Linked DNA regions of Homo sapiens: region 2 is linked to region 1. A link means that fine-mapping ties the variant in region 1 to the plasma level of a protein whose gene starts in the linked region. Region 1 holds a variant in brackets. A gene starts in the other region. All regions are shown on their forward strands.

Region 1 (11,036 bases):
ACTGCAAGTTCTGCCTCCCAGGTTCATGCCATTCTCCTGCCTCAGCTTCCAGAGTAGTTGGGACTGTAGGTGCCCGCCACCACGCCTGGCTAATTTTTTGTATTTTTAGTAGAGACGGGGTTTCACAGTGTTAGCCAGGATGGTCTCGATCTCCTGACCTCATGATCTGCCCGCCTTGGCCTCCCAAAGTGCTGGGATTATAGGCGTGAGCCACCGCGCTCGGCCGGGAAGGGAGCTTTTTAAAGGAACTGCAAATATTAATATTTCGGAATAATGGGAGAGAATGGTAAGCAGGTGAAAGACAAAATCAAAGTTTTCAGTAACCAGGACAGGCACTGGTCAGTCAGAGGAACATGGGCAGTAAGTGACCAAAATGGACATACCAGTGCATAGTGGATATCCGTTCTGCCCATATGCAACTGGCAGGATATAATTCTGAAGACGTGCACAGAGGCCAGTTTATAAAGGGCCTTGTGTGTTTTAAGCTGGACTTGGTACAGTCAGCAGTGGGATACTTCTAAAGATATGTGACATAAGTGACACTCAGATTTGGTTTTAGGAAGATCACTGTGGCCCCAGTGTGGAAGGCAAATGAAAGAGAAGCAAGAGGCCGGGCGCAGTGGCTCGCGCCTGTAATCCCAGCACTTTGGGAGGCTGAGGTGGGTAGATCACGAGGTCAGGAGTCCGAGACCAGCCTGGCCAACACAGTGAAACTCTGTCTCTACTAAAAATGCAAAAAATTAGCCGGCCGTGGTGGCGCAGGCTTATAGTCCCAGCTGCTTGTGAGGCTGAGGCAGGAGAATTGCTGGAACCCGGGAGGCAGATGTTGCAGTGAGCGGAGAGTGTACTGCACTCCAGCCTGGGAGACAAAGCAAGACTGTCTCAAAAAAAAAAAAAAAAAATTGAATTTTGAGTATCATTGTATCTTGAGCAAGTAACTTATCCTTTTTAGGCCTCAATTTCTCCCTTGATAAAATGGAGATCATGTTCACCATTTTGTCTTTAGGCCCCATCACAAAGCCTGGCACATAAATGCTCGAAAAACAAAACATTTGTTAAATGAATGGGAAGGGGAGAATGTCATCTGTAACTATCTTACAGGATTGTCATGAAGATCAGGGAGATAGAGTTTTAGAAAGGCTTCTGTGGCCAGTGAAATGCTATTCAAGGATTAGCTGATTATCCTTGACTGGCATGTCTTTCCAGCATTTTATATCGTATATCTTTTATTTGAGACACTAGTTGTTAAAATTATTCATTGAACTGTCCAGAGGGTCTAATTATTTGGCCCCTCGGCAACTCAGAAGGCTTGGGCTAGCCTCCCTAGATTGGGCTGCTTTTGTGGTACAGTGTCCTGGAGCTGGTGGAGAACCTCCTGACTCTTGAAGTTATTCTCTTTATTTGACTGGCTATGGCCTTAACTTCCAAAGTTAGGGCTTTCTTCCTTAGCTTCGTTGACAAGGGATTTGTTCAATGAAAACCACATAACTCAGGAGGCCAGGCACAGTGTCTCATGCCTGTAATCCCAGCACTTTGGTAGGATGAGATGGGAGGATCGCTTGAGCACAGGAATTCGAGACCATCTTGAGCAACATGGCGAAACCCCATCTCTACAAAAAATACAAAAAATTAGCTGGATGTGGTGGCACATGCCTGTAGTGCCAGCTACTCAGGAGGCTGAGGTGGAAAGATCACCTGAGCCTGGGAAATCGAGGCTGCAGTGAGCAGGGATTGCGCCACTGCACTCCAGCCCGGGTGACAGAGCAAGACCCTGTCTCAAAACAAACAAACAAAAGACAAAAAGCCCCACATAACTCACCTCCTTGGGAATGAATTTGTTTATTTCTTCCCTTTCTGAGAGCAACATTTGATAAAAGACATGCTAGAATGTAAGAGGCTTGGAGGCCACCAGGAAAAAAAAATGTAGAAAGGTGACCCTATAAGACCTTCAGACTCCAGAAAGTTTTGCATCTATATTCTGCAATGTGTGTAATTTTTAAACTTTCCTTTCCACTTGCTCCAATGTCCTTTAAGATAAAGTGACTCTATTAGGAGATCGGTGTGACTTCTAGAACAAACAAATGACTCTACATCCTTACAAAATGGGTGATCTATAATCCCTCCAACCCCAGCCCCAGCTCTAGAGTTAGATATTCCAGGTTCAGATCTACACTGTTTCACTTACCAGCGACGTGGTCTCGGGAGAAGTTATGAAACCTCCTTCTGCCTCCTTGCTTTTTATCTGTAAAATGGGGGTATTAAGAGTAGCAAGCTCAAGTGTGAAAACATGATGCATGCAAAACTAATCTATGCTGTAGATTTGACTGTTTCCCTTGTTGAGGTGGTCACTGGAAAGGGCCATGCAAAACCTTCTGGAATGCTGGTCATGTTACTCCTCTGGATGTTGGTTACATGGATGTGCTCAGTTTGTGAAAATTCATCAAGCTCTCTATGGTATGTACACTACTGTATCTATGTTACTCTTTTAATAAAAAGTTTAAAAAATATCCACGTAAAGTACTTGACCATTGGCATATATGGTAAGTTACTGTCAGCCATTATTCTTATCTCCTGCTGAATGATCATCATCTAAGACTTTAACATTATTCCCAAACACAAGGAAAATGAGGAACCAAAAAAAGACATGCTCGCCGAAGGCAGGCTTGACTGAGCACTCAGTGGCACGGCTGTTTGCACTAAAGCGTTGGGTAATTTCTAAGTAGATTATTTTGGCTGTTGTCTCTTATGCACAAGAGATTCCCTCTATAAATGCTAGAGCACATTTAGAATCAGTTGCATTTCCAGAATTTCTCTCCTTAGGGGAGTGTCTTATTTGGAAAGGGGACATTAGGGGTTTATTGGGAAGCTGAGTCTGCATAGTACTCTATATAAGATTGAGAAAGGGTCAAATGGCCAAATTTGAATGGGGGTGGAGGTGTGAGGGTGGTGAGGTCGACGGAAGTAAAACTATCTCATGGTGCTGTCAGTTTGGAATAAAGGTCGTGAAAAAGGAGCGGAAAAATCCCAGCAAAACCAAACTGGCATGGCCCAGTGTTATCACAATACCATTAAGTGCAAATGTTTTGACCCAGCACACCCCCAGCAAGGTCATCTCAGAAAAAACTGGGCTTCAGTGACATCTCTTAGCTGCCTTAGAATGACTAAGGTTATTTAAACCTCATGGTTGGTTAATCATTAATGAAGATTTTTGACAAACAAAGTAGAACGAGCCAAGAAAGAAGGGTGGCTAAAAATTAGCCTAGGAAAGGTCATATTTCTTGCATATGCAGGGATTAGTGTTGCTTTTGTTTCTGGTAACTGTGCAGAATGGAGTTTCAAGGAAATATGATCCTGTTGGGGAAGCCAATGTGTCTCTGAAGATTTTACTTAGGATTCTCCTCCACTGTATTAGTCCATTCTCATGCTACTAATAGAGACATATGCGTGACTGGGTAATTTATAAAGGAAAGAGATTCAATGGACTCACAGCTCCATATGGCCAGGGAGGCCTCACAATCATGGCAGAAGGTGAAGGAGGAGCAAAGGCATGTCTTACATGGCAGCAGGCAGGGCAGCATGTGCAGGGGAACTGCCTTTTATAAAACCATCAGATCTCATGAGACTTACTATTGTGAGAACAGCACGGGAAAAACCTGCCCCCATGATTCAATTACCTCCCACCAGGTCCCTCCCATGACACATAGGGATTATGGGAGCTACAATTCAAGACGAGATTTGGGTGGGGACACAGCCAAACCATATCATCCACCCTCAGTCATCTGGAGGACTATAGGCCTCCATCACCTTTGCTGAGAAGCCTGCATTCCTGTCCCATGGGGGGTTTACGTAGGAACAGTGGGGACACCCACATGCAGCTGCTGTATGACCCAAGAGGAAAGGGTGAAGGTCCCAGAGGCTGGAACCTGGACCTGCACAAGAAACAGGTGGGCAGCCCTAAAAGCTTTGATTGCTGCTATAAACTCCTGGACAAGCTCAGAGTTGGGAGGCATCCCCCCCTGGGGCCAGGAAGGCAGCAGGAAGGGAGTTTTTCACTAGGGGCAGCTCTAGCTTCAGCAGTGTAGATAAACGCAGGGCTCCACCATTTCCTGAAAGTCCTAAGAAGGAATGAATGATTGAGGGTTCTTTCTCTGTGATTACTGGCTCCCCTAGCTTCCTTGTCATAGGGACCAAATCTCTTCCTCCCACAGTTAACACAGGGCCATGAACCCTATTTAATGTTGAACAGTGCAAAGGTTGGATTTCTTCACACTTTCTCCTCCTTTAAGGCAGCCACCCTGAACTGATTTCATGGACTTGATGATACCGTGTTCTTTCCTCCGGGCCCAGGCATTTCCCGATCCCTTTTCCCCCTACTCATCTGCCTAACTCCTATTCATCTTGTAGATCTCTGGCTCGAGCCTGGGTGTGTGCCCCTTCCATAAAACAGTCTTATCATGCCTGGGAGTTTCCAGAAGGCAGAGGGTCAATTTTGTTGATTTATTTCTCTGGTGAATCCTGCATAGTTGGTACTCCAGCAATGAATGTTTATGGAATAAACAGGTGAATAAAAGAATAAAAAATTTCAGTGAATGAAAGAGTTAAAAAAATCATAAAAGGATTTAAAATGGAAAGGCTTGATAGAATTAACAAAGAGGAATGCAGTCACACTAGAGTTTAAAAAGGAGATGGGAAAGGAAATAACTGTCTATAACTCGTCTCATTTTTTTTTTTTTTTTTTGAGATGGAGTCTCCTTCTGTCACCCAGGCTGGAGTGCGGTGGCACGATCTCAGCTCACAGCAACCCCTGCCTCCTGGGTTCAAGTGATTCTCCTGCCCCAGCCTCCTGAGTAGCTGGGATTACAGGCTCACACCACCATGCCCAGCTAATTTTTTGTATTTTTAGTAGAGACGGGGTTTCACCATGATGGCCAAGCTGGTTTTGAATTCCTGACCTCAAATGATCCACCAGCCTCAGCCTCCCAAAGTGCTAGGATTACAGGCGTGAGCCACCACGCCTGGCCAACTCATCTCATTTTTATAATAACCTTATGAGGTCAGGATTATTATCCCTATTTTACCAGTTAAGAAACTGGTACTGAGAGGTAAGGCATCTTCTTCAAAGTCTCATGACTTGCAAGTAGCAAAGCTGGGGTTTCACCCCTAGGCATTCTGACCACAAACCCAGCCTATTTTAGTAGGCCATGGCACTTGCTCATACAGGTTAGCATTTGGGTAATCACATTTGTCCCCTAAATTTATTGGCATGAAGAGTTAGAAACAGGAATGCTGGGTACTAGTAAGTGAAAAGAGGAGACAGGAGAAAAGGCTGTACCCAGTCCAATAGCTTAGACCTTGGAATTGATGTAAAACATTTTGTGGATGTCCCCTGAGTCTCTTTCTATATTTAAACCTAATCCTCCCTTTGACCTTGGGGGTTCAGAAATGGTGAATGTGTCAAGGAAAAGGTAGGATAAGGTCAGAACATCTGTATCATCCTACCCAGTAGCTGAAGATGGATTTTGTTTTTAGGGTCATGGTGTCAAAACGTTATTTCATCTAAACAGCCATGCCAAAATGTCACACTTCCTATGACTTAAAAAATCAAATCCAAGGCCGGGCGCGGTGGCTCACGCCTGTAATCCCAGCACTTTGGGAGGCTGAGGTGGGCAGATCACGAGGTCAGGAGATCGAGACCATCTTTGCTAACATGGAGAAACCCCGTCCCTACTAAAAATAGAAAAAGTTAGCCGGACGTGGTGACGGGCACTTGTAGTCCCAGCTACTCCGGAGGCTGAGGCAGGAGAATGGTGTGAACCCAGGAGGCGGAGCTTGCAGTGAGCTGAGATCGCGCCACTGCACTCCAGCCTGGGCTACAGAGCCAGACTCCGTCTCAAAAAAAAAAATAAAATAAAAATCAAATCCAAACAAAACAAAACAAAAAACTCAAATACAAAGCCTCAGTGCCCAGAAGGCTTTATAATAAAGAAATCATATAAAAATTGAATATACAAGAAAAATCAGGTTATGTTTTCTAACTCTTCTTTCAATTAAGTTCTTTGCATGTTGTCATGACAGACATTTTTGGAATCAAAAAAATGGGGCATTTAGAACCTGGGACAAGGAGTCTTGAGTGTAGACTTTTTTTTTTTTTTTTTTTTTTTTTTAAGACAAGGTCTCACTCTGTCACCCAGGCTGGAGTGCAGTGGCATGATATTGGCTCACTGCAACCACTGCCCTCCTGGGTTCAACTGATTCTCCTGCCTCAGCCTCCTGAGTAGCTGGGACTACAGGTGCCACCACCATGCCCAGCTAATTTTTATATTTTTGGTAGAGATGGGGTTTCACCATGTTGGTCTTGAACTCCTGACCTCAAGTGATCCACCTGCCTTGGCCTCTTAAAATGCTGGGATTACAGGCGGCAGCCACTGCGCTTGGCCTTGAGTATAGATTTGAGTCCTATTACCAGCTGTGTGATCTTGACCAGTCACATATCTTTATCTGTCCTGCCTGTTTCGCTGAGTTCTTGACAGGTCCATCTGAGGTTATGGAAGCCTAACAGCCCAGTGAATCACATGATCATAGTCATTCTCCTCATGTGACACGCTATTGGCCTCCTCATTTTGATTGTTAATTCTTTTTCTAAAGAGATCAGTCTAACCTGAATGTGATCCTGCAACTTGAAGACCTTTTGTACTTATTTGCTAGAACAAGAAGATCAGCAGCTCTTGTTGC[T/C]CCTAAAAACACTGCCTAATAAGCTGTCATCTTGGGAAGTTTCCCAGTCTGTTCAGCCTCTAAAAAGGCCTTTATCCATTTAAGAGGAAGCAGGAAGTTAGAATTCCAAGAAATGCAGGTTGGGAGGCCACAGTCCAGGTTCAAATCTAAGAAGGTAAAATTCTTAATCACTGGCAAATCCAAGTGGAACTTTATTCTATTGACAATCCACCACCTTCCCTCCTGTCATCTGATTGGCTTTGATGATAGATACTGTCTGAAGTTAGTGATGATCTCTAGAGAAAAGGAAAGTGTCCTGTTAACCTTGCTATGCACGGTGAAAAGGAGAAACGAGAAGGTTTTGGTTTCAAATGCAATGACCAACATCAAGGTCATCCCAGCACTTTCATGAGACCATCAGAAAACTCAATGTACATCAACTCTCTCCATTTAAAATTCTGCGTGTAAAGCCTTTGGGATTATAAATAAACTTTGGCACTGAGGGTGGTGACAGGCTTTGTCACATCCTATTCCAATCCAGATTTGAGTATTATTTGAGTGTTCAATCTCCTACCACTTGAGCCAAAGTTTGAGGATACTCATAATTCACAATTCAGCTATGTAACCCATCTTTTTTTTTTTTAAGATGGAGTTTTGCTGTTGTTGCCCAGGCTGGAGTGCAAAGGCATGATCTCGACTCACTGTAACCTCCGCCTCCTGGGTTCAAGGAATTCTCCTACCTCAGCCTCCCACGTAGCTGGGACTACAGGCACCCACCACTATGCCTGGCTAATTTTGTTTGTATTTTTAGTAGAGATGAGGTTTCACCATGTTGGCCAGATGGTCTCGAACTCCTGACCTCAGGTGATCTGTCCGCCTTGGCCTCCCAAAGCGCTGGGATTAGAGGAGTGAGCCACCGCACCTGGCCGATGTAACCCATCTTCAATGGTAGTCCCAAGACAAACACATGACCGTTAACTTGCTGATTTCTCCAACGGAAAATATCGAATTAGCCAATCCTTTCTATGCTGTAAGGGTTTTCCTAATTTTTTTAGAAAAAATAAATCAGTATAAAGAAAACACAATTTAAAATAAGGTCTTGCGATTGCTTTAAAGAAAGCTTTATTTACTACATACATCCTAAGAATGTACTGTAAATGGAGCAAGATCTAAATAAAAGCTTTTCAAATATAAAGCAGCTAAAGTTAACTAAACCACTAGCAATGTTTGAAAACAGAACTCTAAAACTTTTTTTTTACATTTATATAGTTTGTTCTTAACACTAAAAAAAAAAAAAGTTCACATTTCAAGTTATAAACTTACCTCAGTAGTGTACATGAAATGGTTTTGAAACAATAGGAACAGATAAGTCCCAGATAGGAGGCTCACTGATACTTAATTGGCCATGTCACCAATGTTTGTTTTTAAGGGAGTTTGGTGGTTGCCATGTTATCATTTTTTTTTATTCTTTCTTTCTTTTTCTTTCTTTCTTTCTTTCTTTCTTTCTTTCTTTCTTTCTTTCTTTCTTTCTTTCTTTCTTTTCTTTCTTTTCTTTCTTCCTCTTCTTCTTCTTTTTTGCAAATAATTTACAGGCATATGTAAAATACAGTAAGAATACTGGGTCATAGTTTCATCCAGTGAAACTCTGTGACAATCCTTCACTAGAAGGAGAGTACTTTTTTCACACAGTCAGGGGATGAGGATCTGATCCGAATTACATTTTGTCGAGTCACTCATTCCCACAGATTTGAGTTTGAATGCAGCTTGTGGGGTACATCATCAGGAACATTGCACAATTATTTTATGTCATTTAAAAGAATGATGGAAAGGAATGTTAGCGGTGCTTAAAGGCCTCAGTAGGCACTCAATAATTTTATAGAATAGTTAAATAAATATTGCTTACACATAAAAACTCATCTCATTTCAAGATGAGGGGGAAAAAGGCATTTGGGAATCTCTTAATTTAAAACAAAACAAAAGTACTTGCTAAGGGCATGATCCTCTTATGAATCCACAAGAATTCAGCCATCAACAAAAATCCCGTGAGTGGAAAATTGTATGGATCTCTAACATGACATAAAAACGCAACTGCGTTTTACTTGCTACCTTATTGCACACCTCACTTCCTTGATTGAGCCTTTAAAAAACAATTCCAAGTTGATATTTTTTTTTAAAAAGTAGATGACAATCTTAACATTTTACTGTATTTTACATTCACTCTGCTAAACAAAAGCCTTTAAACAGGCACAAAACACTGCAACAATACATTAACTTCCTAATAAAACAAACCTTTTTAATAACATTGAAATAAAATGGTTTCATTTTGCATTAAACTACATACCATGAACTTCTCCAACATAAAAGGACTAAAAACAAGCATTAGAAGATATTTACAAACTATCTTTAAACTTCTACAGGTCTCTCCTCCTCCTCCTGGATGTGCACACCCCAATCCAGTTCACCCATCAAGTGCACAGCAAAGGAAGAGAGGCCCATTTAATAAACATAATGTTTCCAACACCCTTGAGGACCATGGACAGTTTTGCAAGAAACATGGTAAGGCAACTAGAAGCATAACTTTCTGCTGAAAAGAGTCTCTGGGGGTCTTGTCTACGATAACATACATTCTTTGTCCCTACAAACTCATACTTCAAAAATGAATAAAAGCATTAGAAATGGCATTAAAGTTTTACATTGGGCAATTAAATAGCTATGCAAAGGTGTCTTATGCAACTCGATTAAAACCTTGTGCTTACTCTGCTACTGAAAATAGCACACGTAGAAGACAATACTTCCCCAACCAAACAAAAAAAAAAACAAAAAACAACGAAACAACAAACCCCAACAAAAACCCAGGAAGAAGTATAAAAGCCACCAGCTCCTCTATCAGAGCTACTTATCAGTCCTAGGCTTGCCAAACATTGCGGTGGGATTGGGAATCTGGGGAGGAGGGGACAGGGTGAGAGATGTGGGAGTGGGGGCATGTTTAAGGCTAAGGCACATGGAGAATGAGCCCCGGCTAACGGTGGCAAAGGAGAGCTTTCCAGTGTTTGGACTCAGAAGTGCGGCAAGTCTTTTCAATGTTGGCTTAAGGAGAGATCCAGTGTTTAATTTCTTTTAAAAAATAGTACCGCCATGATGATACATGGTAACACCATCAACCCTTAATGCCAGCAGAAATACAGAGGTTTTACTCATTTTAAAATTGCACTTTCCAGTATAACCTTTAAAATAATGCTTTATGTAGTATTTTTAAGCACTACTGTTTGTATCTTTAAATATTGTATATATTTTTCAAAATAGTTCCCTAGCTCCTCAAGTGTGCTTTTTTAATATATAGTTGATATATTATTGAAGGTACTACAAAATAGAAATCTCTGGAGTGCAGAAGTTAAGAAAATAACCTTCATACTGAAAATATATCCTTAAAAAAACAACAACAAAAACCTCTATACAAATGTAGTACAGCATACAAATTTTTAAAAGATGGAATGAAGGCACGAACCATTGCAAGTCTTTTGGAAATGTATGAACGTAGGCATGCTAAGTTGAAAATAGTCTTAAAAAACTAGTGAAAACTTCATGTATATAAAATAATTCAGAAATAAATCTGCTAACATTCTTCACTTTCAGGTTGCATGTGTGAATCCAACATGTTCCTTCTTCATAAATAGTCAAGCGTTCCTTCAGTGGTGTTTGTGTGGTCTGTCTTCGTGCTGGTCACCAGCCTCAGTATGTCTGGTAGACGTCGGGGATGGGGACCTGAATGGCAGCAGCAGGGAAGGCCTGAGGTATGTAGCCTGCGTATCCTCCATACATGGCGGCCGCGGCTGCCGCGTTCTTCTGTAGTGTGGCGATCGTGGCTGTAGCTGGAGCAGCAAATGGCACGTAACTGGCCCCGTAGATCCCGGCAGTAGGAATTCTCTGAACGTTTGGAGCCACCGTGTATACTGGAGTTATTGGGCGGCCCTGAGGAGAAGAGACAAAAAGGAGCCTTCCTGAACACGTGTATGTACCTATCATCCATTCATTCAACAAGCCTCTCCCAGAAGACGGGAATACAAAGACACAAAAGCAAGGGAGAGAAAGGCAGAGGGGCGGGCAAACAGCAATTATTGTAAGCAAGTGGGAGAAGAGCCACTGAAGAGGTAAGGTGGAGCTGCATCCTCAAACTCAGTGATGCCACCTTGTGAAAGTGAGAGGCCTGGAAGGCTGAGGGAAAGGTGAAATACAGTTGCCCCTCAGTATCCTCACAGGTGATTGGCTCTAGGACCTCCGTGGATACCAAAATCCTCAGATGCTCGAGTCCCTGAGAGAAAATGGCG
Region 2 (11,036 bases), not on the chromosome of region 1:
GTTCTAGCTCCTCAGGATTTTGTAAGTATTGCTTCATTTTCTTCTACCTCCCAGTGCTTTATCTGAAGAGTTCAGTGGATTTCTTACTCATAATCCTTTCAATGTGACATAATTTTCCAGAGAAATTTTGGGGATTGCTATTATAATAAAACTCATAGGAGATACTTGTTTTCTCAATGGTCTCTGCAGAAATTACTCTATCTTTTAGTATTGAGTATTGCTGTGGCAAAATATGAATGACCCTGTTTATTCTGTCTTTGTATGTGACTTGTTTACTTTGCCTGAATTCCATTTACTCTGTCTTCATCTATTATGTTCAGTAATGTCACCAGGATATGGTTCAGTGCAGGCTATTCAGCATCTTTTTTTTTCTTTTTCTTTTTCTTTTTTTTTGCTGCCAAGTCAAGAAGTTCTTTATTTCAGGAAATCTTCCTTGCATTTTTTTATTCAACATTTTTTTTACTCTCTTCTTCAGATAGGAAAGAAAAATTATGTGTATTGGTCCTCTTCTTTCCCTATGTGTATAAACTTTTAAATAATTGTCATGTCTATTTCCAGTATTTATCCTTTTCTATTTCATTTTGAGTGATTTCTTCAGGATAGAATATTAAGTACCTGACATTATTTATATCATTTATAATTGCCACTTTTGTTGTTTCCTGTAACTATTTTATATTCTCTTCATCTCTAGAGCCCTTCAAGTCTATTTATCATCGTTTCTGATAGTTTCAAGTTTTTCAAGAGCTTATATCACTGTTTTGGAACACTTCATCTTAGTGATTTTTATTGTTCATAATTTCTGAGATGATAGGTAATTATTGTCTGAACTCTTTTTCTTTTTTATTAATTTTTATTTATTATTTATTTTTTGTTATACTTTAAGTTCTGGGATACATTCTGTGCAGAATGTGCAGGTTTGTTACATAGGTATACATGGGCCATGGTGGTTTGCTGCACCCATCGGCCTGTCATCTACATTAGGTATTCTTCCTAATGCTATCCCTCCCCTAGCCCTCTACCCGCCGACAGGCCCTGGTGTGTGATGTTCTCCTCCCTGTGCCCCTGTGATCTCATTGTGTCTGAACTCTTTTTCTGTCTTCTAGTACAGTTTCTCTTGTGATATAAATTGTTTGTATTTTGATTGTCTTATTTCCCCATTTTCCCCCAAAATATCTTTTAAGGATATTTTTTCATTTTATTCATATATATTTTCCAATTTCTATTATGACGTATCATTGCTTGCTAAGATTATGGTTATCTTGAATGGGGTCAGTTTAGGAATATCTGAAGAAAGGACACAGGAAGAATGAACTAGTAAAGCCTACAGCGTTGATATAAACACAGTTGCCTTAATAAATCTCTATCAAATCTGTACTTACTTTTTCCACAATCATGTCTCTCCTTAACTGTCTGAATCAATATATTTTGAATTTTTTCTGGGTAATTATCAGGATCCAGGTGTTTGGGGCAGCACACAGTAAAACCCCTCATCTCATCAGCTCTTAGTTGTATTATCTGGTGACTTCCCCTTCTTTTCCCTCCTTTACCAAGTTGCACATCTGACAGTGTCCTCTCTCAAAGGGGAAAAATTACAGATAATCAGAGTAACACGTTGGCCTGATTTATCTTTCAATGAAGATTTTAAATCATATCTCTAGTACAATATTTTAAAATCACTTATCTAGTTATATTCCATGTTGTGACTCTAGACCTGACAAAAAGGTAATGCATAACCTGTATTACATCAAGGAATTCAGTAAATATCTTTGTCTTCATGTGTAGCATATTTTATATTATCTGATAAATATGCTTCATAGTCTGTGATTTTCAAATACATTCATATCCTTGTTCCAAGGAAGATGTCATCTTGGTGGTTTCTTTTTTGCTTTCATTCTCAATATTTCATCATAAGGAAAAGCGTGAAAATCCTTTTACACTGGAGTAAATAGGAACCACTTTCAGAGAAAACAGTATACCCATAGGATATTTAATCAGGAAAAATATAATTACTCTAATATACTAAAATGTTTGTATAAATACAGGTAATATAACTCCCCAAATTAACTGTAAGATAATACTTCTTCTTAAGTGTCAGCCAGTTAAGTATTTTGGAATATTTGCCAAGAATTGTTTTTATGTTAGGAAAGTTAACCATAGCTTTTCTTTTTGTCAATTTTTTAAAAAGTTTTTGATTCTTACCACTCTACATGTGTGGCCATGAGCTGTGTGTTTTGCAAACAAAAGAATCTAAGCTTTTCTACTGTTATTGAGGATGGGAAAAGGAACAGGATGATGACTGCACTGAACTAATTCAATAATATAACCAAATCATTGATAAGTCAAGGTGCATATTAAAAAGAATATAGAAATGGATCAAACATATTCCAGAGTGGTTGTTTAATTTTAATGAAAGGCTTTAAAAATGTTTACATAGTTTTGTACTCTTTTACTCCTTTTGCCTACATCTTCTTATTTAGGTTTTTCCCATTCCTCTGTGTAATAAGAAATAATGGTTTTACTATTCTCTTTTTGTAGAGGAGTAAATTTAGGGTCCTCAAATTCACATTGCTAGTAACAAGCTTAAGTTGACATTACAGATCCCCTGTCTTCAATCTCCTGACAGTTGCCTCAACAAGGCCATCTAAATATACACTTGCAATCAGCATTCTAGGAAAATGAATAAAATAGCTTCAAGTGCCATAAAATGCAGATTTTTTTGAACACAATTTCTTCTCTTAATTAAGTTAAAATTTCCCTGTAATATTATTTGCATCATTATTTTGTGGCACAATACAACATAGCCTACAAGTGCCCTGGCTTTGACATCAGGCAGGCCTGGGATCAAAATTAGGCTTTCTCATCTGGGACCTGTATGTGATTTTGGGTAAGTCCTTAACCCTGATAAGTCTTAGTTTTATTATTGGTAAATTAGGATACTAATATTTATTTCACATTGATCTTTTCAAGTTTGAGTAATTGTATGTGTGTGACTCAAACATATAATTGTCTATCCAGTATCTAATACTAATTATCTTTTCAAATATCACAAACTTACCTTGAAAAGAAGTTATAATTAGTGGATTTAGGAGCAGTAAAACTATTTCTACTTTATAGTTAAGAAAAAATGGGCACAGAAATGTTGAAAGACAAAATTAGAATGTCTGTTCAGATTAGGTTCTCCAAGCAGTACAAATCCATAAAAAAAAATTGCCTTAAGTTAAAATTTTATTTCTTTCATAGAGACAGCAATCAGAAGTAGACAATCTAGAGCTGTAGAGACTAGAAACCAAAAGTCTTCTATTTTATTGTTCTCCTACCTTTTCTTGCTCCTTCATAATCTAAGACAGCATCAGTCTCTAGTTACATTTACATTCCAGCCAGCAGAGGAAGAAATAACAAAGAATAAAGGACAAGGTATAAAGGAGATTCCTTGAAAGCTGCAACTTAACAATTTGGCCACAGCTTTATCAAGTAGCTACATCTAGCAGTGAGACTAAATAATATAATCTCTATTCCAGGAAGACTCTGTTGTGCTAAGGATTAAGGGTGTTCTTACAAAGAAATAAGAGAAGAGTGAATATCACGTTATGTAACTATCAGTGCATGCCGTGATATGTTTGATGTTCATTTGAGGTTTATTTGTAAGCGTCTAACTTATTTCCTCTTCTATTAATAATTTTTGCATGAGAAGATCCAGATTCTACTATTGACATTATTTCTTTTATATCCTTAACAAATATCTTTCCATCAAGATGTGCTCTTACTTTTTTCCCACTGTATATGGGATTCCAATAACTACTCCACTAGTGGACATAGAAGCAATGTCTAGATCTAGTTCCAGTATAGCTCCTCTTTAAATTCTCATTTGTATTTTGGTCTTCATTTAAAATCTTTCTCTAATATAGTTCAATATTTCTGTTTTATTTAACCTGTAACTGGTCACACTATTACATCAATGACTGTGGTGTGTTACTTTAATTTTTGAGGGCTTATAATAATCTTCTAATATCTGTTATGGAAAGTTTCCTTTCACTATTATTATCCATTATTATTAGAGTTTTTGTATTTTCTTCATAATTTATTTTTTAGGCAAATTTTAGCCTCAGTCCTAAAAATCTTTCCAGAAAGCACATCTAAAAATCCTGTTAATATTTCTCATTTATTGTACAAATTTATAAATTAACATGTTGATAATGTTGAGTCTATTGAGAAACATTGTATGACTTTAAAACTGTTCAATTTTTTTGTAGTCTTAGAGATTTTTCCAAACAGATCTACCATAATTATACATTTATATGTTGGCCCTTTTGTTGACAATAAAATGAGGACTTTTCTTCCATTTTCACCTATTATATTTCCCAATTGCTTTTATATATAAAAGCTATTGATTTATATATAGTAATTTAGTTCTTAACCACTTTAGTAAATTTTTTCTTTGTAGTTACCCTTCTAGTTTATTCTCTTATGTTTTCTGAACACTGTCATATCATCTATAAGGGAAAGTACTAGCACATCTTCATTCTCAATTTTATACCTCTAATTTATTTATCTTTACTAACTTTATTGTTTGGTATCCTCAAAGAAAAGTTAAATGATTATAATGCTGGTGGTCATTTTTATTTTATTTCTGACCTTAAAGGAGTGCTCTTAAGATTTCTCCATTGAGAACAATCTGGCATTTGGTTTTAGAGTAACACATCTTACAGTACATATTCACGTATATATTCTTATAAACATTTAATATACTTTTAAAATTTCCAGAATGATTGCATTCTTGATCTATAGTAGCAATTCCTACCATTCCCTTTTATATTAATATATCTGGAAAATTTATTAATTATCAAATGGCTATTGGGTAAATAATATGACAGGAAAAAAGAGTGGAATCATGCTGTAGGATGTTTAATGTGGACCATGCCAGGAACAAGCAGTACCAGTGACCTACTATGAAGCATATGCATCTAATTGTGTAAATAATTGAGATTTTCAGATGCATTACCTATTAATAAGGCAAGAATTTTTACTATGTGTGAATAAAACTTCAATAACAGTGGTTGAAACAAGAGAGTGGGGTGTTTCTTGCTCAGGTAAAACTCAGATATAGGAATTCAAGGACATCTCATGGCTCCACAGCCCTCTGGGACTCAAGCCACCTCCAGCTTTGCATTCTGTCATCCCTAAGATAGTGCCTTGCGTTTAGGGGTCAGAATTGAATTTCAATCATCACATCAATAATCCAAGCCACAACATGGAGGAAGGGAAGAGGAATTGACATGTGCCCTTCATTTTAGGACATGTTCCAGAAATTGTGGATACTATTTCTATTTATGTCTCTGTGGTCCACACTTAGTCACATGGTTGCTTGTGTAAAGCAAATTGGAAATTTAGCCTTAATTCTGGGAGACCATATTCCCAGCTAAAATTCTACGATTCTTTTACTAATAAAGAATGAAAAATAGATATTAAGAATTAACTAGCAGGTTTTGTTCCAGCAGGCTGACTTTCATTATTGAATTGAGCTAATTAGATATTCTTTAAGCTTCTTTCTTGAAGCAGAACATTGTATTACAACTGGATCACACATATTTTTAGTACACATTTGAAGATTATTATAAATCCTAGTATTTCCATCTCCAGCTATTTAATATTTTCCATGAAATATGTTAAAGTATTTTTATTAGAGGGAAGCATTCTAAAGCCATTTGTGATGTATTTTGTAATCACAATGCAGCCTGGGAAACTTCTGGAAGGTTTTTGTTGATAAATAGTTTTATCTAATACATTATAAACAAGCCTAACCTTGTATTTAGGTTCTGACACAGTATTCTGACGCTGAAGAGTCTGGGAAATTTAATTGTCCTAAATGTTAGCTAATACATCAATTTCTTCTACATTTTCACCCTATCCAGGAAAACAAAAAAGCAAAGTGTTGATATGCTGTGAGGTTAGCAAATATCATGACTTCCTCTTCCATTCTCCAATAAAAGCCCTGCTACGATCGCAATCCCCAGCTCTGGCACAATGGCTTTTCTTCCTTCCTGGGTTTGTGTACTAGTTGGTTCCTTTTCTGCTTCCTTAGCAGGGACTTCCAATCTCTCAGAGACAGAGCCCCCTCTGTGGAAGGAGAGTCCTGGTCAGCTCAGTGACTACAGGGTGGAGAACAGCATGTACATTATTAATCCCTGGGTATACCTTGAGAGAATGGGGATGTATAAAATCATATTGAATCAGACAGCCAGGTATTTTGCAAAATTTGCACCAGATAATGAACAGAATATTTTATGGGGGTTGCCTCTGCAGTATGGCTGGCAATATAGGACAGGTAAGAATGACTCTTGTTTTCATTGTAATGATCTACCGATAGACCTATGAAGTATTTGGGAAATTGGACTCTGTATATACCCTACTATGTTTTTAAAAATTGATTCTTTATCTTGTTCTCTTTTCCCTTATAATCATTGTTTTTCTACCTATCCTTCTCCTTATCCACAAATCCTTCTTTTGTGGGTTGTGTGTTATTATTAGAAGCTTCAATGAGGCATAAGACATAGTTATCAACTGTGAAAAGACATCACATCTCATCTATTGAGCATTTCACAAATATTTGTTGAAGTTCTACTAAGTGCCACACTCCTTTCTAAGCAATGAGATGAACAAAACAGTCAAGGGGATATACAAAGTGATGTCCAATTAGTTTGAATTTCTTGAAGTTCTAATTATGATATGAGGTTATAAAGAAGCATCACATTGTTCATGAAGATCTTTCTCTGTAAAATGTTTGCTTCCTCTTGGAAATAAGGTACCTTACAGTGTATAGACAGAAGTTACATTTTGGGATAAAATATACATGAATTGAAAGATACTTTTGTTCTGGTTGATAGAAGCTCATGAGAAAGAGTGGTGCCTGTTGCCCACTCCCTGCTGATGACACAGCCAATAAAGAAATTATTGTGTGTGAGAGAGAGGTTAAGAAAAGAGCAATTTCATTTGGAAGAAAAACAATGATTATTTTCTAATATTTACATAATGCATATTACAGGTGAAACACCTTTGGTGCTTTTTCTCACCTCACATCACAACCTTATAATGTAGTTAATATTATTATCCCCATGTCATAGATGAGAAAACTAAGGCATTAGAGGTTATTTAGATAAAGTCAAGCTAGTAAGTGGTAGAGCAGGGGTTTGTTTTGACTCTCGACCATCTCTTTTCATCTGTATGCATATTGCTTCATAGTTTCGATTAGAAGGTAGAGGAGGAAATAGAAGAGAGTATCCTTACAAAAGTAAATAATATTTAGGACCTATAACTCAAAAGTAGAAAACTGTGTTGTTAAGGAAAAGGAAAGAAATTAGAAACTAAAAAATAAAAGATAAAAAAAGAATGATGGGAATACAAACACATATCATTCAGAAATAAATGCTTTTGTATCTACAAACAAAATCTATGTGGTTAAGCAATAGTTACAGCCAGTTTCAAAATGCGTATAATAAATACGACTGTGCATCCTCTCTCCTCCAGGCAGATTAGCTGATCCAACCCGAAGGACAAACTGTGGCTATGAATCTGGAGATCATATGTGCATCTCTGTGGACAGTTGGTGGGCTGGTATGTTCGTTTAAGTGGCAAAATAGATATTAACCTTTCCTGAAAGAAAGCATTCAAACCTAAAATCTTAGGGACAGAGACAGAACTAAAATAATCCTGTTCCTATTTTAAAAAGGAATCTATTTCACCGTGTACCTTATGGCCTTTAGGTCACTTTAAGGGATTTAAGAGCCACAATGTCAATAATGATTCCTTAGGACATATCCAGCTTTTCACAGAAGGACGAAAACAAGGTTCTGCAAAAGCAGTGGCCTCTGAGGGGCCAGCTCTGGTAGTTAGGTGGGAGGTCCAACTGATGACAAAGAATCTCCAGAATAAGGAACGATGAGAAGTGAGACATCAAGACAAATGATGCTTTTTCATTTTGCTCAGACCAGATGTGGTTAATATTGAAACCCATAAACATGCCAGAGATTAATACCTACTGCAATTCATTATACCAATCAGTAATCTCAGGCTTTAATCATATACTTAATGCTAAAATAACCAGAAGGTATTTTCTAATTCTTTCATTTAATTTTATGCTTTAGTAATGAAAACAATTTATACCACAAATCCTTAGAGGTATTTCTCAATAGTTAGAAACACGACCACATTAAATTTCACTTTTTCAGGGCAACACACATCATATGTATCCTTAAGCATTTTCCACTTACTACCCCTAGTTCTTTTAAAAGACTCGCGAATAGTAGTGGCCACAGATCTAGAATTCAGAGTTTGTTATTCTTAGATTGGTTTAGTAGTTTGGAGGATTAGCCTGCTACACTGTGGCATAGGATTCCATTCACAAATGCCTGTCTAGGATGAAATATTCTACATCACTGATTTCTAGTGGAAATCAGTATAAGCCTAATATCCAACTAATGAAAATGTCTGAGTCTGCTGGAATAGGTGATATATAGGTAAAATTTTTTAAAATGTGAAAATAGTCATGTTTGATTGTCAGTCTAATGGTCTATTGTCAAAACTTACCCAAAATTTGTGCTTTAAAGGATAAAATAAGATAAAAATTTAGTGATATCATGATTACAAATTAAACTTATGTGTATAAAATAGAAAACATTCATTTACCAAAGCTATAATCATGTTAAAATATTTTAGAGAAAAATACAAGTACAATTCACAATAAAACCGTAATGAGAGGTTTTGTACCATTTTGTGGAAAAGTTGATAGCTTTCTTCCATTCTTACTTAATGCTTTGAAAAAATGAATATTATGATATCCATTAAAATTACTTTTTGTTTTAAAATATAGTCAACTACTTTAGCCAATATGTTATATATTTATGACTATAAGGTTATTAACAGAAATGCAATCAAAGTTATATATTTGATCCTTAGGGGGATTTTTGTTCAATATTTTTTTCCTAATGGTTAGCTTTTATAATGTTTCTGGGTCTGTGAATTTTTTTATGACTTATGCCTTCCTTAAAAATATCCTCTTTGAAATTTGTTAGTGCTTGTAGTAATAGTAAATCTTTTGTTCTTACAGATTTGAATTATTTTCTGTCTTCATTACCCTTTCTTGCTGCGGTTGATTCTGGTGTAATGGGGATATCATCAGACCAAGTCAGGCTTTTGCCCCCACCCAAGAATGAGAGGAAGTTTTGTTATGATGTTTCTAGCTGTCGTTCATCCTTCCCTGAGACAATGAACAAGTGGAACACCTTTTACCAGGTTCCTTCTTTATACTCTTACGAGATAGGAAGAGAGTTTATTTTGTCATATAATTTCGTCTAGGATTTTTTTGTGCATTACATAATATTTTCCTTAGTATGCAGATGTAAATTGCTATGCATGATATATTAATAGTATATTGTAGAGTGTTATGAGTCATTAACACCTACTGCCTCAATACAGCATTAACATAAATCTATCCATTCTTCTTGCCTCAAATACATTATACAAAAATGGTGAGCATACAGGATATTTTGCTGAATGATTAATAAGCTATTCTGATTAATTGAGTCTTCATGTCCACTAGGATATTGGAAGAAATTTGACTAAAATCAATGAAGAAAAGATATATTTACTAGTACTTTAGTAGATTATTGCATTAGTTTAGATCTAATGAAACATTTTAAGAAGATATTTTTGTTACTCACGATTTTATGGTAATTTTAACAGTGTTAACAGGAAAAAATAAAGGCCTGATCGGTATAAAATATAAACTCTGAAAATACTTGAAGTTCAATACTTATAGATGCATATGCTATTATTAAAACTAATGAATATTTTTGTGTTATTTAAAGAGTGTTAGGCATTAAGGCCATATACATACTTTTTCTTAGAAATAAAATTCTTCTTTTATGTACAATATTGCTAAAATATATCTGAACATGACTAAATTTCAGGGAGAAGGATTTTATAGTTGCTCAAATATTAATAAATTTGACCTCTTTACCTTAGTATTTGCAGTCACCTTTTAGTAAGTTTGATGATCTGTTGAAGTACTTATGGGCTGCACACACTTCAACCTTGGCAGATAATATCAAAAGTTTTGAAGACAGGTAAGAATGAATCTTTAAAGTATCTCTATTTAATATGATAAATAATTTTGGGCATTATTTATATATTTTTCTTCTTCTTCTAGAGTGTTTTTCAATCTTTATATTAAATAATAAGCCTAACCATTGGAGATTATAGTGAGGATGTGTAAATATTTTAACATGATCAGGCTTAAAAAAGTGTTTTATGAAGAAGGGGAAAATTTTGAGAAAAAAAAGCCTTGCATGAAAAAACAAAAAAAAAAGCAACAGACAATACATTTTCCTAAATGTAGAAAACAAAATATAATATAAATATGTAGATGACCTTTATTATTTAATCATAGACACTGTTACAAGAAAAACTATAGATAAGATAAATGTAGCAGAATTCACTTAAGCAATGAATGATTCATTAATCAGCATCATCCTGAACCAGTAGAGGTTCAGAGAGCTTCACCCAGTGATGTGGGCAGGCAGTATTTATAGACAGAAAAAGAAAGTGACATATGGAAACACCTTGATTGGTTACAGCTCAGATTTGCCTCATTTGGACATAGTGTGGTGAGAAATTTGCCTTGTATAGGCATGGTTTGATCAGTTGGCAGCCTGTGATTGGCTGAAGCTCAGCTGCCATGATTGGCTGAGACCCATATTTGTTACAAGAAAATACTCTTAAGTTTGGTTGCAGTTTGTTTACAAACTACATTAAGTTGCAGTTTGCTACATATCGTGGCAATTTTAGGCCAAACTTAATTTAACAATTCCCCACCTTTTGGTCTGCCTCTCAATTTTGAGAGGTTGACCAAAACCTTGGGCATTGACATCACTCTCTGTCACTTTCATCATTGACTTATTTGGTATCAGTATGGAATTCACAGTTCACAAATCAGGACAGTTGACTGATTATTTATGTTCTCTTTATGTTTTCATTATTCTAAT

Alleles and levels. Alleles are on the strand shown, and positions count from the first base shown. The strength of an association depends on the size of the effect and on how common the allele is.
In carriers of allele T in region 1, the plasma level of the protein whose gene starts at base 6,010 in region 2 tends to be higher than with C alone (weak association).

What was found. A credible set is the group of variants that fine-mapping cannot tell apart. PIP is the posterior inclusion probability: the model's chance that the variant is causal. The UK Biobank Pharma Proteomics Project read protein levels with antibody pairs (Olink). The fine-mapping took linkage between variants from a reference panel, not from the people measured, so its PIPs are less certain.
Region 2: C6orf58 starts here. The variant in region 1 is the best candidate, but not a certain one, in a credible set for the plasma level of the C6orf58 protein (UK Biobank, PIP 0.55).

What each region holds. Positions count from the first base shown.
Region 1 is chr4:40,415,464-40,426,499 of GRCh38, forward strand. It overlaps RBM47 (RNA binding motif protein 47), which reads right to left. Exons shown (of 7, transcript NM_001098634.2): 7 at 7,817-10,680. The coding sequence ends at 10,441. It overlaps RBM47-AS1 (RBM47 antisense RNA 1), which reads left to right and starts at 10,670. Exons shown (of 2, transcript NR_199039.1): 1 at 10,670-10,719. RefSeq lists enhancers at 3,122-3,266, 9,959-11,036 and a cis regulatory region at 3,187-3,200. The variant T/C (reference allele first, on the strand shown) is at 6,733.
Region 2 is chr6:127,571,165-127,582,200 of GRCh38, forward strand. C6orf58 (chromosome 6 open reading frame 58) reads left to right here and starts at 6,010. Exons shown (of 6, transcript NM_001010905.3): 1 at 6,010-6,322; 2 at 7,522-7,608; 3 at 9,101-9,285; 4 at 10,018-10,118. The coding sequence starts at 6,022.